2 linked regions of the Homo sapiens genome follow. The protein of the gene in region 1 purifies or fractionates together with the protein of each later gene. This does not show direct contact. Each region holds a gene or a part of one and is shown on either strand. Other genes may lie near its edges. The genes, in order: KCNN3 and RAB5A.

What was found.
Region 2: the proteins of KCNN3 (region 1) and RAB5A purify together in Homo sapiens (affinity purification with western blotting, with the first as the bait; one study listed by BioGRID). This does not show direct contact.

What each region holds. Positions count from the first base shown.
Region 1 is NC_000001.11:154,867,482-154,871,513, forward strand, and holds the start of KCNN3 (small conductance calcium-activated potassium channel protein 3), read right to left. Parts: upstream 2,801-4,032; 5' UTR 2,484-2,800; coding exon 1,551-2,483; intron 590-1,550; exon of another isoform or gene 468-589; intron 1-467. UniProt on the Homo sapiens protein: Small conductance calcium-activated potassium channel that mediates the voltage-independent transmembrane transfer of potassium across the cell membrane through a constitutive interaction with calmodulin which binds the intracellular calcium allowing its opening.
Region 2 is NC_000003.12:19,974,354-19,978,374, reverse strand, and holds part of RAB5A (ras-related protein Rab-5A), read right to left. Parts: intron 2,775-4,021; coding exon 2,623-2,774; intron 2,329-2,622; coding exon 2,206-2,328; intron 66-2,205; coding exon 1-65. UniProt on the Homo sapiens protein: The small GTPases Rab are key regulators of intracellular membrane trafficking, from the formation of transport vesicles to their fusion with membranes.

The sequences.
Region 1 (4,032 bases):
GGTCGTCTGACAGGTCTGCCCCACCCGTTTCCAGGGCGGGAAAGTCTGCCCATCACCGATTAAAGTGAGATGCTGGGAATGGGGGAAATCCGATCAGCACCTCCTAGGTTTTTGCGGCTGGATTTCAATAAGGAATGTGACAGTCTCGCAGCAGCTGTGCCCTGCCTGAAACAAGCTCTATTTGAAACCTCCAACAGCTGAACCCCTCCCAGCTACCCGATGGCCAGCCCGCCCAGCCACCCCCCCACCAAGCCACCCCCTGCCCCAAATGACAAATAAATAGAAAAACCCAAGCAACAAGCAGGCGCATGCATACGTACAAACATTACGCACATACACACACACACACCAACAAATTGGGGGTGGGGGTATCGTGGAGCCACTTGTCCACCGATTCCCAGGTCTCCAAGCCTTCCAGCCCACAGCAGGAGAGCTCCCCGGCAAGCAGAGCATCGGCAGAAACCCACCTTCCTCCATCTCCACTCCCTCTGGGAGGGAAACCCCCTCCTCCGTCTTGGGGCTGGACTGAGAGGCTGGAGCAGTGGGGCCAGCTCCCCGCTAAAGCCAGTGCCTGCTGTTCTCCATCCGGGCGCGCACTCACACACACACTCATCTTTATTTATCCCAAGGAGGAGTTGAGGTGGGAGGGGAGAACTGGGGCTGAGCTGGGGCGCGGGCTTGTGGGGACCGCCTGGGAAGCCCTGTCATCCCGTCCCAAGGAGAGGTGCTCCCCCAGCTGATTCCAAGGCGGCGCCCAGCTGCTCTGCCCAGGTAACACCTGTAGCCATTTTTATCAGGAGATGTTTACGAAGCAGCAGCAGGTTTATTCTGAGTCCTCTCTCCTGAGGGAAAGGACCACTGATTTCCTCCACCTATATTTTTACCCCATGCCCTCAGGAGACCCAGGTCATGGATGGTTTTCTATTTTGCCCGAGACTCTCTGAGAAGAGGAGGGAAACAGAAACTTGGGAAGAGATGGAGAAGACAGGGAGAGAAGGGACTTGGGCAATGGTACGGAATCCCCACCCCCCACCCAGACATTTATTTCTTTTTTATCCTCAGGAAAATGGAGTGGAGCAGGGAGGGGAGGAAAGAAGGGGAAGTCGCAGGAACTGGCAAACACATGAAGGCGGAGTGTAATTAATTGGTGCGTTAAGCTGCTGGGTTATGCTTTAGTACGAGTGAGCCAGGAGGAAAAGCGATTTCTCAGAAGGGATTATTGAATCCTCCCTAACAGAGAGTCTGCAAATTAGACACAGTGTGTGGGGATGTCCCCTACCCCCCAGAGGAAGCTAGGAATGAATTCTCCCGGGATCAAGAAGGAAAACCACGGGAAGTTAGAGTGTTGAATATAACTGAGCAAGCGCCTCTCACCACCACCACCACCTCTCTCTCCCAGTCTCCCTCCCAATCTCTCAATCTCTCTCTCTCTCTCTCTCTCTCTCTCTCTCTCTCAATCTCTCTCTCTCACAATCCCCCTCTCTCAATCCCTCTCTTGCTACCTACATATTCCTTTTGTTCAAGGTATAAAGAGAAACCACAGCCCCTACCTTTGAGTACAAACCCCAAGAGAGCTCGGTCTCTATCACCATAACAACAATTCCAAACATCCCAAAAATCAGAGCATAGTCACTCAGTCGCTTTCTCTTTTCAAACAGGGCCCTCCTGTGTCCCAGCTTATAGCCAATGTTTTGGTTTTTCCGCTTGTTGGCTTTGGGGAAGGTGGTGCTGCTGGCGGTGGTGCCGGCATGCTGGTGGTTGTGGGTGGCATTAGGGTGATGGAGCAGGGTCTGGTGGGCATGGTTGTCCTCCCGGGAGGAGATGACGATCTCCGGGGGGTTGCTAGGGCTGAAAAGCTGGAGGGGTTGGCCCTCAGTCTCGGCCTCGATGAGGTTCCTCCGGGAGGCGCTGAGGCGGCTGAGGGGCTTCATGACCCCACCGCTATACTTGCAGGAGCTCATGGCGATCTCCGTGAAGGGGTTGCTGTCCCGCCGGTGCACCAGGGGGCTGGCCTGTCGGTGCCGGCTGCCTCCGCCAGGCCCACTTGTAGCTGTGGAACTTGGAGAGTGGCCAAGCAAGTGGTCATTGAGATTGAGCTGGCTGCCTTGCCTGGAGGAAGGGTGGAGGATGGCGGTGGAGTTGGACGAAGGGGGGGCCCTGAAAGCGGTGGGAGAGGAGTGCAGCAGGCCAGGGTGGACGGGCTGGCTCTGGAGTTGGGCGAGCTGAGACAGGGGATGCGGTGGCTGCTGCTGCTGCTGCTGCTGCTGCTGCTGCTGCTGCTGCTGAAGCTGCGGAGGCTGAGGCTGCAGCGAGGGTCCCAGGGGCTGCTGGGGGGCTGCTGGTGGCGCTGGCGGTGGTGGCTGCTGCTGCTGTTGCTGCTGCTGCTGCTGCTGCTGCTCATCCCCAGAGGATGGACAGGGGCACTTGGGGTCTTCATCCAAGTCCCCCACCCCCGAGTCATGGAAGTGCCCAGAAGTGTCCATCTTGGGGCCTGGCTGTATTCCCTGCAGCACAAGCCCCCACCCCAAAGCCACCCTCGCTCCAAAGATGTCCTCAAAGAAAGCCAGGCATCCAATCTCCCCCACCAGTATCTTGGCTCCAGTCCTCTCTTTGGCTTGCTTCGGTTCTCTGGGGCTGCCTGGAGTCCAGACGCTGCCACTCAAGAATGCATTGTATTGGGCAGGGAGGGAGAGCAGGAGGGGAGCTTGGAGAAAGAAGAGGGGGTGAAAGAACTCTCTCAGGAGGTGGTCCTCTAGGAGCGTGTGAGGCCAGGCTCAGCTTCACTCCTCGCTGGCTCAATAGCTTCGCTCGCCTCCTCCTGCCACTGTTACATTGTAAGCCAAGCCCACTTATTAGCAGCTGGTCTCATTGGCTTGGCTTAACTCTCCAACCTCCTCCTAGCTCCGCCCCCCGCATAGGCTCCTCCCCAGAGGAGGGGCCTGGCGTCCTGGGCTCCGGCCCCAGTGGCGGCGCAGCGAGGACTGGGAACTGTAGTTTTTGCTCCCCCACCCCGGAGCTGAGCCGCTGTCCTCTTTCCTCTGACAGGTATGGCCACAACCCTTAAGCCCACGGCGATAAGGGATGTTCGCTCACGCTGGGCGATGGGGAGGAGGGACAGAGGGCCTCCGAAGGAGGGGAGGTGTGCACCCTGATGAGGGGGCAGACGGAGGGGAAGGCAAACATTTATTAACCACCAGGGTTTACGATAGGTTGTTTCACATATATTATCCGGATACAGTCTCCAAACACCCAAGGAGGTGGGCAGTATGGTCTCATTTACAAAGCCTGATGCTTAGAGGTGTTGAGTAACAACGTCAAGGTCACAGAAGCAGGGGGGATCCACACCTTCTAACACCCGGTGGATAAACTCACCTACCATTGACTGAGTGCCTACGCCTCGTGTTCAGGGTCCTCTCTGTTATTTCCAACCCTCACATCAACCCCACAAAAATGATGTCATCACTCTCCTTTTACAGATGAAAATTGGAAGAAGAAGAAGAAGAAGGAGAAGGAGAAGAAGGAGAGAAAGGAAAGTGGAAAAAACACTCAAACGCTCAAACATAGATATGTAACTTGTCAGATGTCATCCCGCTTGTAATTAAAGATGCTGGGATTTGAACTTAGTCAGTCTGACCCCACAGATCAGATACTTTCTCCCAGGATGCATTTCCACTATGATATTCAGTACAAAGTGGTTGTTCAATAAATATTGTTCAAATGTTAGTTGGGGAAAACAAAAGAGAAGCTGCTGAGGAAGAACTGGCCTCTCCAAAGCAGGGTGTGTGAAGTGGACCATGGCTCCAGCCCCTTCCCTAACAGCTGGGTGTGTAGTCACAGGGGGATCTGGCAGGAAGACTGAAGATTCCCCCATGGTCATTCCCTGCCTGATTTGCCCCATGGGGCTCTGAGAGTCAGAACTAGGAACAGCTGCTGGCTTCCCAGGTTCAGAACCATCATCATCAAGTATTTATTAAGCCCCCACTGTGTGCAGAGGGGGTTCCAAAGGATGGGACCAGAGCTGAATTCATTTTC
Region 2 (4,021 bases), on another chromosome or scaffold:
ATTGATGTTTTAGCGGATGTCTCCATGAATAATAAACTATTGTCATCTGCATAGGACTGTGCTTCCTGTTTACAGAACAAAAAATGAGATATATGAGATATATCTCTTGGAAATACACTACACCTGCTTTAAACTTGTTATAGAAAAGGAGACTTTCTTATTACTACAACCTGATTCCTATAATCATCTATAATCAACAACTATATAATAAGCTACAACAGAGGTAAGAGCACTGTGCAAGATAATTTTATAATGGACTATTTCCTTTTTTGTCTGAAATTCTTGCATTATCCCACCTTGATTAATCTTTTCTTACATTAAATCTGCTTTCAAATACTGAGTTCCAGAGATGGGGGAGAATTATCTTATTCTAAATAAAACTCTCTTTGATCTCAACGGCAATTTTTATTTGCACTTACTGTCTGCAATGAAGACAAAGGGAAACCAAATATCTAACACTGGCTTCAAACACTAAATGACAACCTCATATTTAATTTTCAATGACTTCTACAGCAATATTATAATCTTGAATATATCATAAATCATTCCTTTGAAAATTACATCACTGCCCTACATTTTTGTCATGCTTTTACAGTTTACATATATTATTACTTTTGATCCTCATAGCTGTTGTGAGGGGTAACCAATGATCTTTCCCATTGGACAAAGAAACAACTGAGGTTCCTCTGAACTGTTATGTGACAGGGCCACTTCTGACTGTAATTTAAGTGTTTTCTCTGCCACTCTTGTGCTGGGAAGGCAACAATTTTGGAAAGAGTAATGGATACTACATCTCACATCGTTGTCCTAAGAATTAAATAAAATTACAAATGTAACATGCCCAACTTAATACCTAATGATGCAAGAATACATGGATTCCATCTACGTCATCAAAAAAGAAAACTATTTCATCACTGATATATACAGAACAGCCACAACCGCCCTTCTAGTAGAGAAGCCAAAGAGCAAGAGAACAGGCACAGTTTTAAAAGGTCTAAGTATGCCGGGCGTGGTGGCTCACGCCTGTAATCCTAGCACTTTTGGAGGCGGAGGCGGGTGGATCACAAGGTCAGGAGATCGAGACCACCCTGGCTAACACAGTGAAACCCTGTCTCTACTGAAAACACACAAAAAATTAGCCAGGAGTGGTGGTGGGCGCCTGTAGTCCCAGCTACTTGGGAGGCTGAGGCAGCAGAATGGCGTAAGCCCAGGAGGTGGAGCTTGCAGTGAGCTTGAGATTGCGCCACTGCACTCCAGCCTGGGCAACTGAGCAAGACTCCATCTTAAAAAAAAAAAAAAAAGTCTAAATAGAGGACTTGCTTTGTTTTTAAGTGATTGCACTTGCCTATTTTGCAGCAGCAAACATTCTGAATTAGCAATCGTAATACAAAACTGGATTTTCTCAGCCTTAAAAAAATTTTTTTTAATTATTAGTTTTTAGCTTATTATTTTCCAACTCTGGATACAGATTGGCAGAACCTTTATGTTTGAATGCCCCTTTAAGAACAACCACATAAGTGTTTGCGTATGTACATATGTGGGGTACACACATGTGCTGATACATATTTGCACATGAGTAGAAGAGGGTTAGGACATAAAGTATGTGTGGGATGGAGGAATTAGGGCAGGATACAATCACTTTCTGCACTGTGAACAATGACTACTTTTACTGTTTTTCTTTTTTATTTTGAGACGGAGTTTTGCTCTTGTTGCCCAGGCTGGAGTGCAATAGTGTGATCTTGGCTCACCACAACCTCCGCCTCCTGGGTTCAAGAGATTCTCCTGCCTCAGCCTCCCAAGTAGCTGGGATTACAGGCATGCACTACCATCTCCAGCTAATTTTGTATTTTTAGTAGAGACAGGGTTTCTCCAAGTTGGTTAGGTTGGTCTTGAACTCCCAACCTCAGGTGATCCACCCACCTCGGCCTCCCAAAGTGCTGGGATTACAGGCGTGAGCCACTGAACCCGGCCTTTATTGTTTAAGTCTACAAAATCTTTGGGTCAGTTTATATATTACAATAATCTATTTAAAAATTTAGGTTTATCAGAAACATTTTATTATATGTAGTACTTTATATTTGTTTTAAAAATCAGTATTTTCTATTACTTGCATGGTTTTGACATTATAACTAATTCAAGTGTTGACATGAAAGAAAAACATACAGGAAAAAAGTGCCTTTCAAATGAGAGTTAAATTTAACATACCTGGAAATCTACTGCTCTTTTATTTGCTAGGTCGGCCTTGTTTCCCGATAAAGCTATTACAATGTTAGGACTTGCTTGCCTCTGAAGTTCTTTAACCCAATTTTTTGCTCTTGCAAAGGACTCCTGTTAAACAAAGAAACAGCCATTGAGCACAGGCTCAAAAAATGGTTACCAAGCATCTTTGTGATACAAGGCTTTAAAAGACTGTCCCAAGTGACTGTGGGAAAGAAATTATTAGGACTATTGTATTATGAGACATTTTCGTTTTTTTTTAAAACCAGATTTTCTAATTCACAAAAGCTTCAGCAGAAAGGTCATGACTATCAGAAAAAGATTTTCCAAAACATTTAATCAAAATTCTGAACACCAAAAGTGGGTACTCAAATTAGTTTTACTGTGGAATGCATCCATACTTACCTCATTTGTGATATCATATACAACTATGGCTGCTTGTGCTCCTCTGTAGTACATTGGTGCTAGGCTATGGTATCGTTCTTGACCAGCTGTATCCCATATTTCAAACTTTACTGTAGTGTCATCAAGACATACAGTTTGGGTTAGAAAAGCAGCTGAAAGAAAAGGACTACAATAAGTCAATCATTTTTCTCCAAATGTTTTCATAATATAGAAAACACCTGCTTGTATACATCTATCAAAATGTCACACTGTACCCCGTAAGTATGTACAACTATTATGTGTCAGTTAAAAGTAATAAATGAGGGGGGAAAAAAAAAGAAAACACCTAGAAACTTGACAGATTGCATACCCACAGCTGATAATAGCTTTAAATACTGGCAAACCTGTGCTTCTAAGCTATTTACATATATGCTTACATATAGGGCCTTTGTAGTGAAATCACAGATTGAAAAACTTCTGCATCTTAAAAAAGCTTGTTATAATACTAAATAAACTTAAGACTACATTTCTTTTCCTTCTTCTTTTTTTTTTTTTTTTTGATACAAGAGTCTCAGACTAGAGTGCAGGGGCGTGATCTCAGCTCACTGCAACCTCCGCCTCCCGGGTTCAAGCAATTCTCCTGCCTCAGCCTCCTGAGTAGCTGGGACTACAGGCATGCACCACCACACGTGGCTAATTTTTGTAGTTTTAGTAGAGATGGGGTTTCACCATGTTGGCCAGGCTGGTCTCGAACTCCTGATCTCAGGTGATCCGCCCACCTTGGCCTCCCAAAGTGCTGGGATGACAGGCGTAAGCCACCAAGCCCAGCGAAGACTGCATTTCAAAATTGCTCTACAATTAAAGAAATGCACTGATAGTCTTAAAAAATGAAGTTGGGGGAAACCCAGTGTGCCTAAAAGTACCATCTATACTGCTGACACCATGTCCTGTTCCATTTTACTAGTTTTTATTGGCGCACACTGGCAATTTAGTCCCAGTCAGTTACCACCAAATTAGTATTTCTTGTTATATTATCTTTTTTTTTCTTTTTCTGAGACACAGTCTTGCTCTATCTCCCAGGCTGGAGTGCCTCCCAAAAGTGCTGAGATTATAGGCGTGAGCCACCGTACCAGGCCTCTTGCTATATTATTTTTTAAAACATTGTGACACTTTAATTGTGGTAGTCATTATTACCTTAACCTAGATTTAATTTGTTCAGTTGATTCAATATTTGCTCCTACCTTTCATTCCCTGCCATAAGAATTTTTTGGATCTGTACTTTCCCTGATTCTAATTTTAACACTAGGAAAGTAGCATTATAGGCCAGGCGTGGTGGCTCATGCCTGTAATCCCAGCACTCTGGGAGGCTGAGGAAGGCAAATCACGAGGTCAGGAGATCAAGACCATCCTGGCCAACATG